Homo sapiens: one gene and its partners. The protein of the gene in region 3 interacts with the protein of the main gene of each other region in a pairwise test. Each region holds a gene or a part of one and is shown on either strand. Other genes may lie near its edges. The genes, in order: CAPRIN2, SYT7, FERMT2, CHL1 and ADISSP.

Region 1 (3,518 bases), on a different chromosome or scaffold from region 3:
ATACTGATTCAGGGGAAAAAAGTGCTAAAGTCAGTAAAGAAAATATACTTTTAAAATTATCATTTGCCTGGGGAAGAAATACTTTGAGCAAGTGGCACTTCTGCTTTTGTTTACCAAAGTTGGATTTATTAAAGAAATACCTCTTCTCAGGAGGTAGTCCAGGCAGGGTTCTGGTAGCCATAAGCAAGAGCGAAACCATTTTCCATGTTTATTTCCCCTTAGTTCTTAATACTAAGTGCAGTGCTTAAGTATCTCCACTCTCTTATCCCCTCCTAACCTTAAACTGGCTTGTAAGAGGTTTTTAAGGGCTCTATTTCAAGCTGAGATGACCAATTTTTACCCCATGGGACATGAGCTATAATGCTAACTTGAAAAAAAGCTGTGTTTTAGGGTAAGAAGAAATAGTGTTATTTTCAATCAGATATCAGTTTTAAACTGAAACTTGACTTTCGTAAAGTGTCTTACATAAGGAGAGCTACTAGTTTGAACTAGCCTCAGACCACATGCTTTGGACTAACAAGGAATATAATTCCTCTTGCCATCAATATACTTGATTATATTACCCTTTTTCTGTTACGAGTCTTCTGAAATATGTTGCTAGAATGAATTATAGTTGTAATCTGTCTAAAAACTTACAGTTCACCTAGTATTTATTCAGATTCTTTTTATCATCCCAGAGTCTCTAATGGAATTTGCCCAGCCAGAGATACAACCACAAGAGGTAAGATACTGAAAGACAATTTGCTGATGTTGATTTTTCAGCCTTTTGCATAGGGTTATGGTTGGAAGCTAAGGCTCTGGAGCCAGACTGCCTGAGCTTGAACCCTGGTTCTGCAGTTTACTAGCTTAGGGACTTTGGGCAAGAAATCTGGTCCAGCTGTGTCTGTTATCCTCATATGTAAAATAGGGATAACGTTAATGACTACTTCATGGGGTTATTGTGAGGATTAAAGAGGTTGATCTAAATTCTAAATTACTTAGAATTTGGTCTGGCACACGAACTGCCCAAATGATAGCTATTTTTGGCTCCTGTGTTAGAGGAACTTTAAGATGCGCAGGACTTTGCTCTCTCCAGAATTTACTCACATTGGTAGCAGAAAAGGGTATTTGTTCTCTTTCTGAAGTGACATTGAAATTCATGGGAAGCTGAAAAGAATGGGAGATTCAAAAACAGTGTCATTGATGTATAAGGGAAATAAAGAAAACACTGGTAACTTAGGAAATGTCACGTTTAAGGTTACATAATTTAACTTTGAAGTTGAACTATCTTCTGCCTTTTAATGTTTGAGGGAGTCAACTGGGGAGAATGGTCCTAAGGCTGGCAAAGGCGGAACAGCCTTGGTAGAAGAATCCGAATCAAGCAATTCTTGCCAGTCTTAGGCAAGTCCAACAGAAGTTGCTACTTTTGATGTATCGAAGTCTGTATTTCTGTTAATTGAGGAAAAAGGAATGGACAGAAAAGTAGGAAAGTAGGAAAGAGAAGTAGGAAAGTCTTTTCAAGTAGAATAAGGACAGAAATTTAATATTAGTGCAACAACTTAGATCAGAGGACATAGCAATACTAATAGAGTTGAATATTCCCTCCAAGGTCTTCTATGAATTTTGTGACTTAAGTGCATTGTTTCTCTATCTAGTTTCTTAACAGACGCTATATGACAGAAGTAGATTATTCAAACAAACAAGGCGAAGAGCAACCTTGGGAAGCAGATTATGCTAGAAAACCAAATCTCCCAAAACGTTGGGATATGCTTACTGAACCAGATGGTCAAGAGAAGAAACAGGAGTCCTTTAAGTCCTGGGAGGCTTCTGGTAAGCACCAGGAGGTATCCAAGCCTGCAGTTTCCTTAGAACAGAGGAAACAAGACACCTCAAAACTCAGGTCTACTCTGCCGGAAGAGCAGAAGAAGCAGGAGATCTCCAAATCCAAGCCATCTCCTAGCCAGTGGAAGCAAGATACACCTAAATCCAAAGCAGGGTATGTTCAAGAGGAACAAAAGAAACAGGAGACACCAAAGCTGTGGCCAGTTCAGCTGCAGAAAGAACAAGATCCAAAGAAGCAAACTCCAAAGTCTTGGACACCTTCCATGCAGAGCGAACAGAACACCACCAAGTCATGGACCACTCCCATGTGTGAAGAACAGGATTCAAAACAGCCAGAGACTCCAAAATCCTGGGAAAACAATGTTGAGAGTCAAAAACACTCTTTAACATCACAGTCACAGATTTCTCCAAAGTCCTGGGGAGTAGCTACAGCAAGCCTCATACCAAATGACCAGCTGCTGCCCAGGAAGTTGAACACAGAACCCAAAGATGTGAGTTGATCTGTATCATTCTGCTTCTGTAAGTGTAGGCATAAATAAGGTGTCGTGGTAATGACTTTTTAGTTCTCTTTTTTTTTTTTTTTTGAGATGGAGAAACACTCTGTTACCCAGGCTGGAGTGCAGTGGCACTATCTCTGCTCACTGTAACCTCCGCCTCCTGGATTCAAGCGATTCTCTTGCCTCAGCCTCCTGAGTAGCTGGGACTACAGGCGCATGCCACCACACCTGGCTAATTTTTTTGTATTTTTAGTAGAGACGGGGTTTCACTGTGTTAGCCAGGATGGCCTGGATCTCCTGATCTCGTGATCCAACCGCCTCGGCCTCCCAAAGTGCTGAGATTACAGGCGTGAGCCATTGTGCCCGGCCTTAGTTCTCTTCAAAGCCCATGTGAAGTTAATGTATAAAATATTTCACCCTCTTTAGTGGGTAGATTTATTGTTTTCCCTTGAAAACTGGGAGTTAATCTAGTCTGTCTTTAAGTCTAATCTGAGATGAAATTTCTGCAATTATAAAATGTTGTTTTAATGCCAAATTTTAACAATATAACATGATATGAAAATAGTAGATAGTTTAGATAAGACCATAATGACATAATGTGAACAAGTGAGTAATGCAAATGCTTGTCACAGGATGGGAGATACTGTATTTCATTTGTTGTCATTTACCTGCTATACGAATAACTTTTTCTGACAAGTTATATTTTTCTATATTCTCTTGCTTCTCTTCTACTCATTTATGGTCACTCAGTTTAGCCCAGGTCTTTATGAAGAAGGTTTATGGTGGTTGCAGATATTTCAGTATTGGGGGAAGGATTTGAATTAGTTCTCTATTTCCATTTCAAAATGAGAATTTTTCCAAAGATAGGAAAACTGTTGGCATTAAATATTTTGTAGTTAGGTTTTGGAGAACAAGATTCAGTTAAAACATAAGGCCACATTCTTTTAAGGATAAATAACCTGTTTCAGGTAGATAACACTTACATTGAATAATTCTTGGGTACAGTGCTATGTTAGGGTTGCCTTTTATTAAATTGTAAATTACTTATTTACTACTATTTATAATGCAAACTTGTTACCACCTCATTTGCTGAGATATGTGAACTTGTGCTTCCAGTGTTCTCTATCTCTATGGAGTAGTCTTCCTTGCACATCTGTGCCATTTTAGCTAAAGGCTTTCTGATAAACCATTGGACCTCTA
Region 2 (3,518 bases), on a different chromosome or scaffold from region 3:
CTTGGAAACACTTTCTCCAGGAATGGGGGTTTTGTGCTTTGCAGAGGGACCAGCTTAAGGAATCCCGTCTCAGGTCACCAAACACATCCTGTGTCCTCCCCTGATAATAACAATAGTATGATAATAGCAAGCCTTGTGGAGCACTCAGTATGTGCTGAGCACTTTACATATGTGCCTCCAGGGACAGCTTGCTTGAGCTAGGGCTCTAGTGTCAAACAGCTATTGATTTGAATCCTGGCAGAGACACTTGCTGCTCTGTCTCTGGAGCAGGTCAGCCCACCTCTCTGGCCTTGGGTTTCCTCTTCTGTTAAATGGGTATGATGATGGTTCTTACCTCCCAGGCGGTTGGAAGATGAGGTGAGATAAGGCAGAAAAAGTATTTAGCAGAGAGCCAGCCCATAGTAAACACTCAGCCAGCGGTAGCTGTTCTCAACATTGTCCTGTACCAAGCAATTGATGTGTGGGATGAGGGTTCTGGATCCTCCAAGGAGAACATGCCTGCTACCTCCATGGTGGAGGAGTTGGGGAGGGCTTCATGGAGGCAGTGTCAGTTAGGTTACCATCAGAATAGCAGAGACATGTTGTGTGCTCACTATGTGCCAGGTGCTGTTCTAAGCACATAACATGCGTTAGCGCCTCCATCCTCAGAACCACCTTGGGAAGTGCGAACTTGCAGTTAGAAGTAGGTCTGGGATTCCAGCCACGCTGCCAGACCTAAGGGTGTGAGCTTCAGATACAGGGCCTTGAGTCCTGAAGGAAGAATAAGAGCTTTGCCATGTGAGCGAGCAGAGGTGAGGCAGTTGGTGAGGTGGGGACAGCACATGCAGTGGCTCAGAGGTTCGAGGGATCTTGGCCGGTTGAGGCAGCAGGGAGTGCTTGAGCATGGCCAGAAGGGAGACCTTTGGGGCACAGTAGCAGGAAGTGAGGCTTGGGAAGGTAGGTTGGGCCAGATTATGAAGGAGTTGGCATTTTGAAATAGGAAAACTGAAATTCTTTTAAAAAGTAAGGCATGGAGTGCCATGGATGGCTTTTGAGCAGATCTCTATAAAGAACTTTGACAGCACGGTAGTGTGGAGGGTGGGAAGTCAGGAGGCAGGTGGGTAGATGGAGCTAGAATCTCAGCCATTAACATATCTGTCCCTACCTCTGCCAGGAGATCTGCAGTGTCCAGCCAGCCTGGACCCCTGCCCTTGGAAAGCTTGCAGCAGATTATAGGCAGTAAGGGGGTAGCCGGATGCAGGTGGGCATGAATGAACACCCTGAGGGGGCTTCCCAGGTGCCTGGGGTATCAGAGAAAGCCTCCCTAGTGAGGGATATAGAGCCAAGATGGGCAGGCCCAGGGCCCTGTGGACACAGTTAGTCCTTTTGAGGATTTGTTCTGTACCCACATAACCCCCCCAGGCATCAGGGCCAGGCCCAGGAGGGGCCACACAGCTCCTGCTCCAGCTGCCAGGCCTGAGCTCCAGAGCCCCACCAAAGCCAACCTGTCTCCATGGCAACTAGACGGGCCACCCCCCCTCTCCATGCCCACGGCCACTGGCACAGGGACCCATTCACAGCGGGGCCTGGTTATGTCTTCCCACTTCCCTTGGGGGTCATCCCAAGGCAAACGCCCTCACACTGAGGCGCTGGCAGCACACATGCATGTTGGCATTTGGGTATGTATGCACACATGATGTGTATGTGTGTGTGTCCTGCAGCAGGAAGCAGGGAGGTGGGGACCATCTGTGTTGACTACCCACCTTAGTTGGAAATTTGTTACCCCTGAGTGGGGGTCAGATGGGTGCCAAGGGCCCTGACGCCAGGATGAACTGTGGGCTCCTGTCTTGGAGATTGCAGTGAGAAAGCCAGCCCAGAGAAGGGGCAGCTAGGAGAAATGGAAGGTCAGGGAAAGCTGCAAGGGAGAGGCTCCCAGTGGTGCCTGGTGGGTCCACAGACCACCTTGTTCTTTCCATTCATCATGTTATGTCATCTTCACAGCAGTCTTGCAAGGGAGATATCCAATTCACTGCAGTGCAAATGAGGAAACGGAGACTCAGAGAGGTTGAGTGTCTTGCCCGGGTCACTCAGTAGAGCAGGAATAAGATTGCAAGTCGGCCTCACTCCAAAGCCTGGGTCTTAACCACTGGGCTACGTTGCCTGGTGCCTCCTTATCCTACTAGGCTCTAAGCCAGCCCGTCTCTCAGCCCGTCTCTCAGAAGGGAGCACTACGAGTTGGTACTGGCTGCAGAGCTGGACTCAAAGGGTGTCCCAGTGCCTCTTCTAATTCTAGGGTATCCCCTAAAGCCTTTGTTCTTCCTGGAGTGGAGGGGAGTCTCCTTCCTACCCTGTCTCCATTCTCTCTACTGGCAAGGTGGAGGGATCCTCTCACTCATGGGGGAGGCTCTCAGGAGAAGGGGAGGAACCCCTCTCTCCCTCCTTGGCACCTGCCAGCCCTGGAGGAGCCTGATGAATTGTCTGTGTGCCCCCCCCCCAACCTCATTCCTCCCTCTCCAGCCCCCGCCTGGTTGGGGAGGTGCGAAGGGAGTGATTTCACAGCCTGTCAGCTGAGGCCTAAAAATACCCAGAACTCTAAGATGCTTGGGCAGGGGGAGGAGAGAGCAGGGACCGGGGATAGGGTGGTGAAGGGTGCAATGGTAACTTGGTCAGAGGAGCCCAGGTGGCAACACAGTCCTGCTCAGGAATGATGGGAGACCCTCTGTCCCCAGGGTCCCCATCTGACCCCATACCTGGCAATGACAGAGAGGGCCAGTGTCTCGAGGGTCTTGAGAGCTCAGCTCTGGCACTCAGACCTAAGGGAGGGCTTAGTCTCAGATAGGAGCCATTGTGGACCCCAGGCCCCCTGGAGCCTCCAGTTGATGCCTTTCTCTCCCTCTCCACCCCCAGGTTGGCTGGCATCTTTGGGCCGTGGGAGCCAGGCTGTGCCTGAGTCTGCTTCCTTCCTGGAGAAGGTGCCCGCTTCTGCTAGGGGAGAGGCGTGAGGAAGGCAGTGTGGATGGGGGTGCCGGCAGGTGCGGGATGTGACGTGCCAGCCACCCAGGCACTAGAAGGAAGCAGAGGAGAAGGGGTGTGGTGGCCCACGTCACTGCCACATGGCTGTGTGCTGCAGCATGGCACATGGCCCCCACAAGTCAACCACTGCTCAGAGACGGGAACACGTGTATATGTGTGTGTGTGCATGGACCTGCTAGAGTCAGCTTGTTCTGGTGCTGGGATGCTTGTGGACATATGTGACCCAGCCTGGCTACTTCAGGTAGAAATTGGGTGGAGGCACAGGAGTGGGTGTGGGAGCATGAGCTAACACACCTCACTTCATGCAGATGCATGACTGTGTGTGTGCTTCCCATGTGGAAACACGATGGTAGGTGTGTCTGTGCAGAGGCACATGGGCACACATCGCTGGGGCGCCAAGCAGGGGCTGAGAGGGTTCTTAGGGAAAGAATGCAGAGTGGTGGCCAGGGCACAGGGGCTCTGGATCAAAAGTAATGAGGCTCAAATCCCAGATGTGCCTTGTGCTG
Region 3 (3,518 bases):
TTATTTTCTACAGATTGAGTATCCATTATCCAAAATTCTTGGGACCAGAAGTATTTTGGGTTTCAGATTTTTTTGGATTTTGGAATATCTGCATTATACTTACCAGTTGAGGATCCCAAATCTGAAATCCAAAATGTGCCAATGAGCATTTGAGAGTCATGTTGGCACTCAAAAAGTTTCAGATTTTGGAGGATTTCAGAGGTTCAGATTAGGGATACTCTAACTGTATTTTATATTCTAACCATCTGATACAAAATTAAGACTAAAAAGTTTTGTTTAAGAGGGGAAAAACAAAGTTATGTACAAAATTATAAAAACAAACCAGCACAGTAGATGAAGTAAAATGAAGTAAGTACCTGCTTGTTCTTATACTTTTTTAGATAGCGGGGAGACACCAAACATTCAGGAGTTATATCAGTCGTGATCTGCTCTGGTATTAACTGAGGATCTGGGTTTAAATGCTGCATCTTCAGAAAGGAAAGAATATTCTGAACTTCTAAGTTGTAAGAACTGTCCGCCATGGTCTTGCCTTTGGAGGCTAATCTGCAGGCTGCCATCCAGTGTGCATACTGTTTTTCCTGGAGAAAAGAAATACTGATGTGTGCAATGTATCACGAGGTGGGTCTTTCAAGTATAAAATATAAGGATGACTGGTCAACTCATTTAAGAAAATTGAAGTGTATTTTTAACTGGAAAACTTACATTGTCACAACGAAGCCAGATTTCATTCATGCCTTCTGCAACTGGAATCAGGAGTTTAATGTTAAATTTTTGGCCTGAAATGTTTACATCTGGGGTAACTTCACATCCTGTAACAAAAAATTTTTATTAAAATGGCTAAATTTACTTTTAAGAAATCTCAAGTCAATACAAGCAGCCCTCATTCTGTGGCATCTTAACATGTTGGATTTTGCCATAGTATTTTATGAAGGCATCTGCTGCAGAAGGTAACATACACATATACTTGGGAAGCTGGAATGAAAACAACTGTATTCAGGCCAGGTGTGGTAGCTCACGCCTGTAATCTCAGCACTTTGGGAGGCCGAGGCGGGCGGATCACCTGAGGTCATGAGTTTGAGACCAGCTGACCAACATGGTGAAACCATGTCTCTACTAAATACAAAAAATTAGCCGGGGGTGGTGGTGGACACCTGTAATCTCAGCTACTTGGGAGGCTGAGGCAGGAGAATCACTTGAACCTGTGAGGTGGAGGTTGCAGTGAGCTGAGATCGCACCGTTGCACTCCAGCCTGGGCAACAAAAGCGAAACTCTCTCTTCAGAATTTCACTTTGTAGGAGGCTTTACAGAAGGGAGTGCAGATTTACTGAACTAGGTGTTAGATAATGGCATAACAGCTGGCATAAACAAGTAGTAACAGTATAATAAATACAGTGAAGTAGAGCTCTGCAGTCAGAGAGACTTGGGTTGCAGACCTTTCTTTGTCACTTATTAATAATAATTATGGGCCATTTAACTTCTGTAAGTCGACATTTCCTGACCTTGGACTCTACCTCACAGGGATGATTTAAGGATAAATAAGATAATACACTGTCAAAGCTTCCTAAAGCTTATTCCAATTGTCCAAGAATGACATGAACAAAGCACAATGTCATATGATCATGCAGTAGGCTCTACGAAGAAAATTTTAAATTGTTAGTAGGGCTTGCTTTTTCAATTCCTCTTGGCACAGAATATAAGATCATACACACTCCATATTCAGAAGAACAAATGTTAAAATTGTCATTTTCCCTGTCTACATAAATATTTTAGTATTAAATAAAAAGAACACTTTAGATAAAGGAGAGGCCCTCTTTATTCTCCTCCCCAGAAGCAACTCCTACCATGAATTTTGTAGATTCCCCCCTGCCCTTTGTTTTCTTTTTAAAATATTTACTACATATGAATTTCTTCTTTTATATCTCCTTTTATACAGGCTTTAGAATGATGAGAACATGTGTGACGAACTGTTTAATGTGCAAAGTTGAAACAGTTGTTTGAAAGTACACAATCTTTTGCACAAATATCATTAATAATTCAAGAGGATTTACAGTACACAATTCCATAATAATTAGGCCTCTTTTAAAAAAACAAGAAAACTAAACAGGGAGAGACAAAGTGGGTGGTAACTCAGGCACTAGTGTAGGCTCAGAGGCCTACAGGGGCCACATCTCAAACACCCATTCCATGCCACCTCAGCTACCTACTTCCACGGCAACCACTGGACTTCCTCAGTTACCCAATTAGTGTACATCTGAAAGATGAAATGCAAACAGCCAATTCTGGTCACAATCTCTAATCCTAACTCTTTGAGGAACCCTATGCTGCAACCCCTCCACTTTCTCCCCAACAGCAACAGAAGGAAGCAACAGCTCCCTCCTTCCCAACCAGCCTGGACCACATTCACTGGACATCAACTCCAACTGCCGAGACTCACTGTCTTCACATTATACATTCTCCTAGCAAAATCTGCACCCTAGGTAAATAAATCCCTCTAACTTTTCCTTGCCTATACTCAGGCTGCTTAGCACTGCAAGATGGGAAGAAGCAAGAAAAAAAGGTTTCACTACAGATTCATGGATACCAACCTCAGCTGGGCCCTTTATGCTTGCATCCTTCTGTGCTTATACAGACATTTTCAACAATGCCTATTTCAAATCTTCTCAGACATCCTACAATGTCACTTGGTCTCAAGGGACAACTCCACCTCTTATGTCTCCAAGAAAATGAAAGCCACCAGAAGTTAAGTCCATCCATTTCCTGCCACCGTACAAGATAAACTTAGCTGTCCTTGCTTCCACGCAGTGCAAGAGGCATCCCTCATCCTCCAGCTTTCCTATCCAAGTGGGCTGAGTTCATTACCATCCGAGCAACCCTGCTCCACCACTGAGATCCTCCCTCTCAGACACTACATTTCCTTCTTTCTACTGCCACATTTCCACCAGCATTTAATTTCCTTGAGTCTCTCCCATCTTACACCACAACCTACCTCCCTTTTCTGTTACCTCTTTCCCCCTTCCTTGTCATAGATAAAGTTCATTAAAAAGCTTTGCCTCCTTTTTTTTTTTTTTTTTAAATAGAGACAGGGTTTCACCATGTTGCCCAGGCTGTTCTCAAACTCCTGGGCTCAAGCAATCCACCACCTGCCTTGGTCTCCCAAAATGTTGGGATTATAAGCATGAACCACCGTGCCCAGCCATTTTTGTTTCTTATTTACTTCTCAGTGACTGTACTTTGGCTCCATACTCAATAAACCACTGAAGTCTACTTAACTTGTTCTTATCAAGGTCATGAACTACATGGCTAGATACTATGTTGGCCTAACTACCTTACTTTACTACAGTACTGGACATTGTTGACTACTCTGTCCTTTTGAAACAACTTTTATCTTAGCTTTCATCATACTTCACTGCCATAGTCTTCCTATGCATTTTTTTTTTGTTTCCTTTGCAAGGTCCCCTTCTTCTAACCTGCCCTGTCTCTTAAACATGGGTGATCTGCAGGGTTCTATTCTTCATCTT
Region 4 (3,518 bases), on a different chromosome or scaffold from region 3:
ATGATGCCCAGGGTCTGGTACAGGAAGAGTCAGACCATTAGACGCTTATATGACTTGATTTTGGAGAGAACACAAATGTCTCCTCCCTGTAACCTCCAACTCCTGGGCTCAAATGATCCTCCCACCTCAGCCTCCCAAGTAGCTGGGGCTATAGGCATGCCCGACCACACCTGGCTAATTTTTATTTTTATTTATTTATATATTTTTTGTAGACATGGAGTCTTGCTGTGTTGCTGGTCTTGAACTCCTGGCCTCAAGTGATCCTCCAGCCTCAGCCTCCCAAAGTTGCATTAAGATTTTTTTTTAAGACAGTCTCGCTCTGTCACCCAGGCTGGAGTGCAGTGGTGCGATCTAGGCTCACTGCAACCTCCGCCTCCTGGGTTCAAGTGATTCTCCTGCCTCAGCCTCCTGAGTAGCTGGGATTACAGGCATGCCATCATGCCCAGCTAATTTTTGTATTTTTAGTAGAGACGAAGTTTCACCATGTTGGCCAGGCTGGCCTCAAACTCCTGACCTCAAGTGATCCACCCGTCTCAGCCTCCCAAAGTGCTGGGATTACAGGCTTGCACCACCACCTCTGGCAGGTTTTAAAACCTCATATTTAATGCCACCATTCCTGGAATAGGTATGCATTATCATCTAATACCTCAGTAGGATTCCTTTATGTCTACTTTTCCACAAATGGATAATGGGACACAGAACAGGTAAGTTTGGATGGACAACAGGAAAGAGTGTTAGTCCATAGTGAAGACCATAGCTGGAGAATCCTGCTAATCGAGGGGGCACTGCTGGGGCTGGAAATCAGACACTTCTGAGTTTGAATTCTGACTCTGGTACTGCAAGACATATTGTGTGACATTGGACAAGGACCCTTCTGTGTCTGCATCGCCCAGCTTACATTGGGTGTTATAATAGTACTTTCCTCAAATCACTGATGTGGAGATTGCAAAACACATAATAAACACTTGATAAATGATCAATGGTGGCTATTTAAGTATCTGCCTGGCACAGTTTCATTCCTGTCTCTAGCACAAAGTGGCGATCAATAAAAGCTTTTTATAATGACTGGTCACAATGCCTCATAGGACCCACACATACACGTGCGCGCGCACACACACACACACACAGACACACACAAACATAAGAACATGTATTATAGAATTCAGGATGCTTTGGAAAAGTCTATCTCCCTATCTTTGGCCAGGACTACGTTCAACTCTCAAAATATAACTGGTAACATTTTCAATTTTTCCCCTAGACAGCTCTCAGTTTATACGGTGACTCTAGATTTCCTTAAAAAACAATTCACTATCAGTTATACAATGTTGCTCTTTTCTTCCAAAAAAGGAAATCTGGGCTGTGTAAGGTGGCTCATGCCTGTAATCCCAGTACTTTGAGAGGGGCAGGTGGGAGAATCACCTAAGGCCAGGAGTTTGAAACCAGCCTGGACAACATAGTGAAACCTCACCTTTACAAAAAAGATTTTAAAAATTAGCCAGACATGATGGTGCCCGTCTGTAGTCCCAGCACTTTGGGAGGCTGAGGTGAGAGAATAACTTGAGCCCAGGAGTTCGAGGTTGCAGTGAGCGATGACCATACCACTGTACTCCAGCGCTCCAGCCTGGGCAACAGAGCCAGACCCTATCTCCAAAAAAAAAAAAAAAGAAAGAAAGAAAGAAAAAGGAAAAAGAAAACCTGAAAGCAATAGAGTGGGCTATGAACTGGGTTACAAATTAGGATATCTAAGATGATTTAATTCTAATTTTCACTACTGTAGGCAGTGTGGTGGAATAGTGGTAAAGCTAACTACTTGACCTTGCATTAGTTTTTTTCATCTATAAAATGGGCTAACAACCTGTTTCTTTTTGTTCACTATGTTATTGTAAAAGTCAGATGAGATGACATGGAAAAATTTTCTAAAAAGCATAAAGCACACAAATAATGCAAGACATTATGATTTTTTTTTAAAATAGAAATCTTCAGAGGCAATCTTCTGAAAGGATGGAAATGCAGCATCCAGTATCAGTCTTGGAAAAGGTCAGTATTTATCTTCCCCCTGAACCTTTTGCACATGAGACGTGTTATTTCTTTTGAACATAACCAATATGTAAGGCATCCCATAATAAGCTAATATTCTGTCACTTTACAGTTTTTAGCAAGGTTTTCAATGCAATAAAAAACCGAACTTCCAACAACTCTAACCGCAACAGATCATCAAAATCCCCACATTCCTTTTATCCACTTACATTCTATTACTCTGGGAAATACATCTCTTAGTCCCTGGAAATAAAAATTCCTCACATTAAGATGCAACCAGTGCATTCTGGTCTATTCCTTCATCGTCCTTGTTCTGATACAACTATAACAAAGAAGAAGGATACTTCCTCCAAAGATCCAGGCATCCAGGTTACATGAGTTTCAGCTGCCAGACTGACATTTGAGTGTATCTCCGCTTTCCCAGGCATCATAACTACAATCCCTCCCAGGAGAATCACCACTTACAGCAAAAGCTTTTGTTAGGGAGGAACCTCTGCTAAAAATGCCAACCATTACCATAGAAGCTGGAATACATCTTTTACATTATTCTCTCTGCTATGTCAGCTCTCATCTTAGAAAGCATAGATAATGCAATGAAATGGACAAATTTGTTTTGAAGTTTAAGAGTCCCAACTGAAACACACCACTGAATATGAGCATGCCCACTTCGGGCAATGAAAGAAAGAAGAAAGGAATGACAAAGAAAAAGTGGTGAAGATTCTCCTGAATACAAACTTAATGATTCCCTATTTTGTACTGTTTTTGTCAATTCTAGCTTTCCCCTTCCCCACTACTCACGTTCCACAAATGTAAAGCCTTCAAGATGTGCTAGGTATTCCTCACGTACTTCCCAGATTCAGATCCCTTTTCTGCCTTCCTCCATCCTGCTCTGCTCTGGGAGAACTGACCTCCACAAACCACTACAATAGGCTCCCTTGCCGTCTTACTGCCTTGCTGAAGAAGCAACTGGAAATCTTGGGGTAGAAGCAGAGCACTGTCTTGTGATTTGACAGTAGTTATGTTCCTCTACCAAAAGCCATAGGTCCCACGTGACAGCCCTCTTCCAGAGCTACTGCTCCCACCTCCTTCCAGGAACTTCACCTTCCCATTATCCCTTCAGGACAAGGGGCAGTAACAGCTCCAGATGTGCTTCAGCAGCCCTTGTGGGCTTCCCCTAATCCCATCCAAAGAGATGTGGGCCCGTCTTTAAGGTCCCTTAATTACCTCTTTGGAGTAGGATCTATATAAAAGAAAGGAACAAAGTGAAGGTGAGAGGAAGCCATGTTTTACCCAGCGAAGATATGTCTTTCAAGAACATCAAGGGGACAAACCACTGGGTTCTAACCTGTGGCATTCTGCCACCTGGGCATTCAGGTCCAATACTGTGAGAACATCAATCCTTTTAAGATAAGCCAGAAATATGAATTTTACATGAAATCTCCAGTATTTAAATGTTGGCTGAAATTTGTCTTAAACATTCT
Region 5 (3,518 bases), on a different chromosome or scaffold from region 3:
CAGCCTCCCAAGTAGCTGGGACTACAGGCGTGCGCCACCACGCTCAGCTAACTTTTGTATTTTTAGTAGAGACGGGTTTCGACCCATTGGCCAGGCTAAACCTGGGCCCCTTTTGAGCAGCGCAGCAGACCCCCCACTCAGGGCCATCTCAATGGGCCAGACCTCCCCCGACCCAAGGGCACTCCTGTTCAACTCTGGACCCCTGATTTATTGACCAACCTGAAGGCCTCAGTCTCCATTTTCCCCAATCCAGCTCCACCAAGCAGAAAACAGGGGGTGATAATACTACTTCAAAGAGCCTAACTGAGCCAGAGATTTGGCAAAGAAGGGTTAAAAAAAAAGTTGCACCTTGTTATTGCCATAGTTAGCTTCACACCTGTATCACATACATACATTCTTCCATTCTCACACCAACTCTAGGGGATGTGATTGTCTCCACTTGAGAGAAAAGAAACTCAGGTGACCTTCCCAAGGTCACAGAGCCAGAATGGCTGGCCTAGACCTGAACTCAGGCCACTGGCACCACAGCCACGACACTGCCTTCCATTGCTATTGTCTGGGTGAAGCAGATGACAGCAGTGGCTCTGCTCATCTTGATCTGGATGACATTCTAAATGCTCTCATCTCATTGAAATCTCACTGCCTCCCATCTGACAGATGGGGCAACCAAGGCACAGGGAAAGGCACAGACATGCCTATAAGCCCGGCTGAGAGGAACGGGGATAGGCACCCAGAAGCCAGGCAGAGCCGGGGAGGGGAAGAAGCTGCTGATGGGGTAGGTGTGCATGTACCTTGACCAGAAAGCTGCTGTCACTCTCCTGGGTGACCATGACCACCGAGTCATGCAGCTTCTCATCAAAGTGGACGTGGCTGTGGGATCCTTCTGCATCGTGGCCTGCCGCAAAGCGGATACTCCGGACTCTGGGCTTGTTGCCTAGGAAGAGTGGGAGAGGGCTCTGAGGGCTTTCCCTGTCCCCAGGAAACTCCTCCCCCTTGTCCCCTCGTCACCCCCAAGACTGCCCTTGACATCATCCAGCTCCCACTGGCTGGGCTCTTTTCAGGGCTAGATGGACACTAGGATCATGAGGCTTGAGGCCTCCCCGCCGGCCCCGACCTGCCCCTCCCACAAAAATCCATCCCCTGAGAGTGAGCGTGGGGGGACTCAGGGACTGGCTAATATGACCCTTGCTTGGAGGGGGTGGGGCTGGTGCCAGAGCCAGGAAGGGACAGTCTTCCAGACTCCCACCAAGCCAGGGCAGCGTGGGACTCAGCCCAGTCCTCTGGATACCCTGCCCAGTGCTCTCCTTCACAGTGCAAAGCTCCCCATCCCTGGGGCCTACCCCTAAGCTGTGTCAGTGCATGAGGCCCCTGCCTGCCCATCCTCATGACCCAAACCTGAAAGGGCAGGGACAGGAACAGGCTCTGGGGGATCTGCCTGGGGTGGCAGAAACAGGGGGGATCAAAAAACACACTCAGGCCACCTGGGCGAGGCTGCAGCTGCCAGTAAACCTCACTGGCCCCTGGCAGCAAGAAGAGAGAATCCAAGGAAGCTTCCAGACCCACCTCAAGACCCCCTTCCTTCCTCTGTCTAGCCCACCATCAAGGCCCTCAGCTGTCTCTGAGCTGGGTCGGGTTCTCCAAGGCCAGAAAGGGCAGACGGATGAGACAGGCAGGGTAGGCGGGAGCCGAGCTGAAGGCCTGGACTGGATGAATGCTCAGGCTGTAGAGGCCGAGAGCACGGCCCTAGTCCTCTCTGACCCCTGGCCCCTAGGCCCTCCCACCAAGAGCCCTGCCCAGGGTCCTCTTGGCGGGAGGACCTGATCCAGCTTTGAGCCGGCCTCTTGGATACTCGGAGGCCCAGGGGACCAGCCTGGCACATCCACAATCCCTGGTGAGCCCCACAGAACCCTCAAATCTCACCAGATCACCCTGGCCTAAAACCCTCCCTTATCCCTTCTGGACTCTGAAAGAAACCCAAACTCCCTTCCACAGCCTGCTGTGGCCCTCCCACATCACCAGTCTCAGTGCTCACCATAAGCCCCTCGGCTCCCCCAACCCCCACAGTGGAACGGCAGGGACACAAGAGCACACACCTCCACAGACCAGCCTAAGGAGTCAGCAGGGCTCTGCAGGGGTCCTGCTAGGGCTTGCGTGAGCCCCAGAACCTGGCACAAACACTGACATAGTCCCAATCACATTCGCACACCAGCACACACGCACTCACACATGCACACACACACACACAGGTGGTGCGGGCCCTACCTGCAGCAATGGCCCTCCTACCAGGGCCCACCGGAAGAGCTTGTGCAAGTCCTACCACGCCAGGAAGGCACTTACCCTTGTTGGCTGCAGCCATGGACGCCCTCCCTGCCACGCAGCTCCTGCCAGACACCGCCACTCACGCTCAGCAGCCTCCCATGCTCCAGGGACACCAGCGGGAGCCTGAAGGATAGGGAGTGGGGAGGGCAGGGGTCAGGGCCACTCATGGACCCATGGCTCAGGGACACCAGAGGAGCTCCCTTTAGGAAGGACTCAAACCCCTACCGCTCTCAGCAGCCCAAGTGGTGCCTGTACTCTCTAGCACGGGGGCTTCTGCCCACCCTCTACCGACTGCCCACATTCACCAAGAGCCCTCACCCCTTCCTGATACCCCAGTGACTCAGGGTCCTGCCAGCATGTGCTGAGCTGCAGCTTCTAGGTGCCAAAGCAACAGCATAGGACTCCTATCCCCAGCACCCCCAGAGACTGGCAGGAGGGGCAGCCTGGAAAGGAGGACTTTATTGGTATTTTCCAGGGACCAGTTCTGGTGCTGCTGACCCCAAAGGCTGGGCCTGGAGCTACCTTATTCAGGTCACACAAGCAATGCAGCTGGGTGCGGTCAGAGGCAACAGGGTGCTCGATGGTGGGCAAGAACAGGGGACCACATAAAGTAAGCGTGCCCTTAGAGCTTTCCCTCCTGGTGATCGGTCAGGGCCATATGCAAAACAGATGCCTGTGGAGGGGGTGTGCCCCCACCTGAACCCCATTCAGACCCTGCCCTGAGTCTCAGGCCTGCCTCCGCCTCAGCTCCCCAACGGCAGCCTCAGCACAGGGGCAGTGAGAGGCGCCCCAGGAAGCCTCCAATGGGCCGAGCTGGGACCATCTGAGCATCAAAAAGAATAATGAGTGCAACTGATGGAAACAGATGGAACACATAAAAGCAGTGCATTCACAGAGATTATTAGAAAAGAAGAGAGAAAGCAAAACAAACAAACCCAAGCCCTCAAAAGCCCTCATTTGTCACCACTGACGGTAGCAGTGCCCTCTTTACTCTGAAAGCTGAGGATTAAAGAGGAAGAATTCAGCCTGTCTCTTGGCCTTTCTTGTAACCAAATTGCCCTGGTGGTTGATGGAAAGCTCTTCTTTCGGAAAGAATTCTTGCTAATAAATAACAAAGAAATGACCAAATGCTAAGTCATTCTGCAACCCCTAAAGGAACAAATGCTGGAGGCAACAAGAACCAGTGGATGCTAAACCAG

What was found.
Region 1: the proteins of FERMT2 (region 3) and CAPRIN2 interact in a two-hybrid assay, tested with the Homo sapiens proteins (one large-scale study listed by IntAct).
Region 2: the proteins of FERMT2 (region 3) and SYT7 interact in a two-hybrid assay, tested with the Homo sapiens proteins (one large-scale study listed by IntAct).
Region 4: the proteins of FERMT2 (region 3) and CHL1 interact in a two-hybrid assay, tested with the Homo sapiens proteins (one large-scale study listed by IntAct).
Region 5: the proteins of FERMT2 (region 3) and ADISSP interact in a two-hybrid assay, tested with the Homo sapiens proteins (one large-scale study listed by IntAct).

The regions. Positions count from the first base shown.
Region 1 is NC_000012.12:30,727,442-30,730,959, reverse strand, and holds part of CAPRIN2 (caprin-2), read left to right. Parts: intron 1-677; coding exon 678-721; intron 722-1,634; coding exon 1,635-2,312; intron 2,313-3,518. UniProt on the Homo sapiens protein: Promotes phosphorylation of the Wnt coreceptor LRP6, leading to increased activity of the canonical Wnt signaling pathway.
Region 2 is NC_000011.10:61,571,073-61,574,590, reverse strand, and holds part of SYT7 (synaptotagmin-7), read left to right. Parts: intron 1-3,518. UniProt on the Homo sapiens protein: Ca(2+) sensor involved in Ca(2+)-dependent exocytosis of secretory and synaptic vesicles through Ca(2+) and phospholipid binding to the C2 domain.
Region 3 is NC_000014.9:52,864,045-52,867,562, forward strand, and holds part of FERMT2 (fermitin family homolog 2), read right to left. Parts: intron 810-3,518; coding exon 703-809; intron 579-702; coding exon 357-578; intron 1-356. UniProt on the Homo sapiens protein: Scaffolding protein that enhances integrin activation mediated by TLN1 and/or TLN2, but activates integrins only weakly by itself. Binds to membranes enriched in phosphoinositides.
Region 4 is NC_000003.12:203,251-206,768, reverse strand, and holds part of CHL1 (neural cell adhesion molecule L1-like protein isoform 1 precursor), read right to left. Parts: intron 1-3,518. UniProt on the Homo sapiens protein: Extracellular matrix and cell adhesion protein that plays a role in nervous system development and in synaptic plasticity. Both soluble and membranous forms promote neurite outgrowth of cerebellar and hippocampal neurons and suppress neuronal cell death.
Region 5 is NC_000020.11:3,757,745-3,761,262, forward strand, and holds part of ADISSP (adipose-secreted signaling protein), read right to left. Parts: intron 2,443-3,518; 5' UTR 2,357-2,442; coding exon 2,338-2,356; coding exon of another isoform or gene 2,263-2,337; intron 935-2,262; coding exon 792-934; intron 1-791. UniProt on the Homo sapiens protein: Adipocyte-secreted protein (adipokine) that acts as a key regulator for white adipose tissue (WAT) thermogenesis and glucose homeostasis at least in part through activation of protein kinase A (PKA).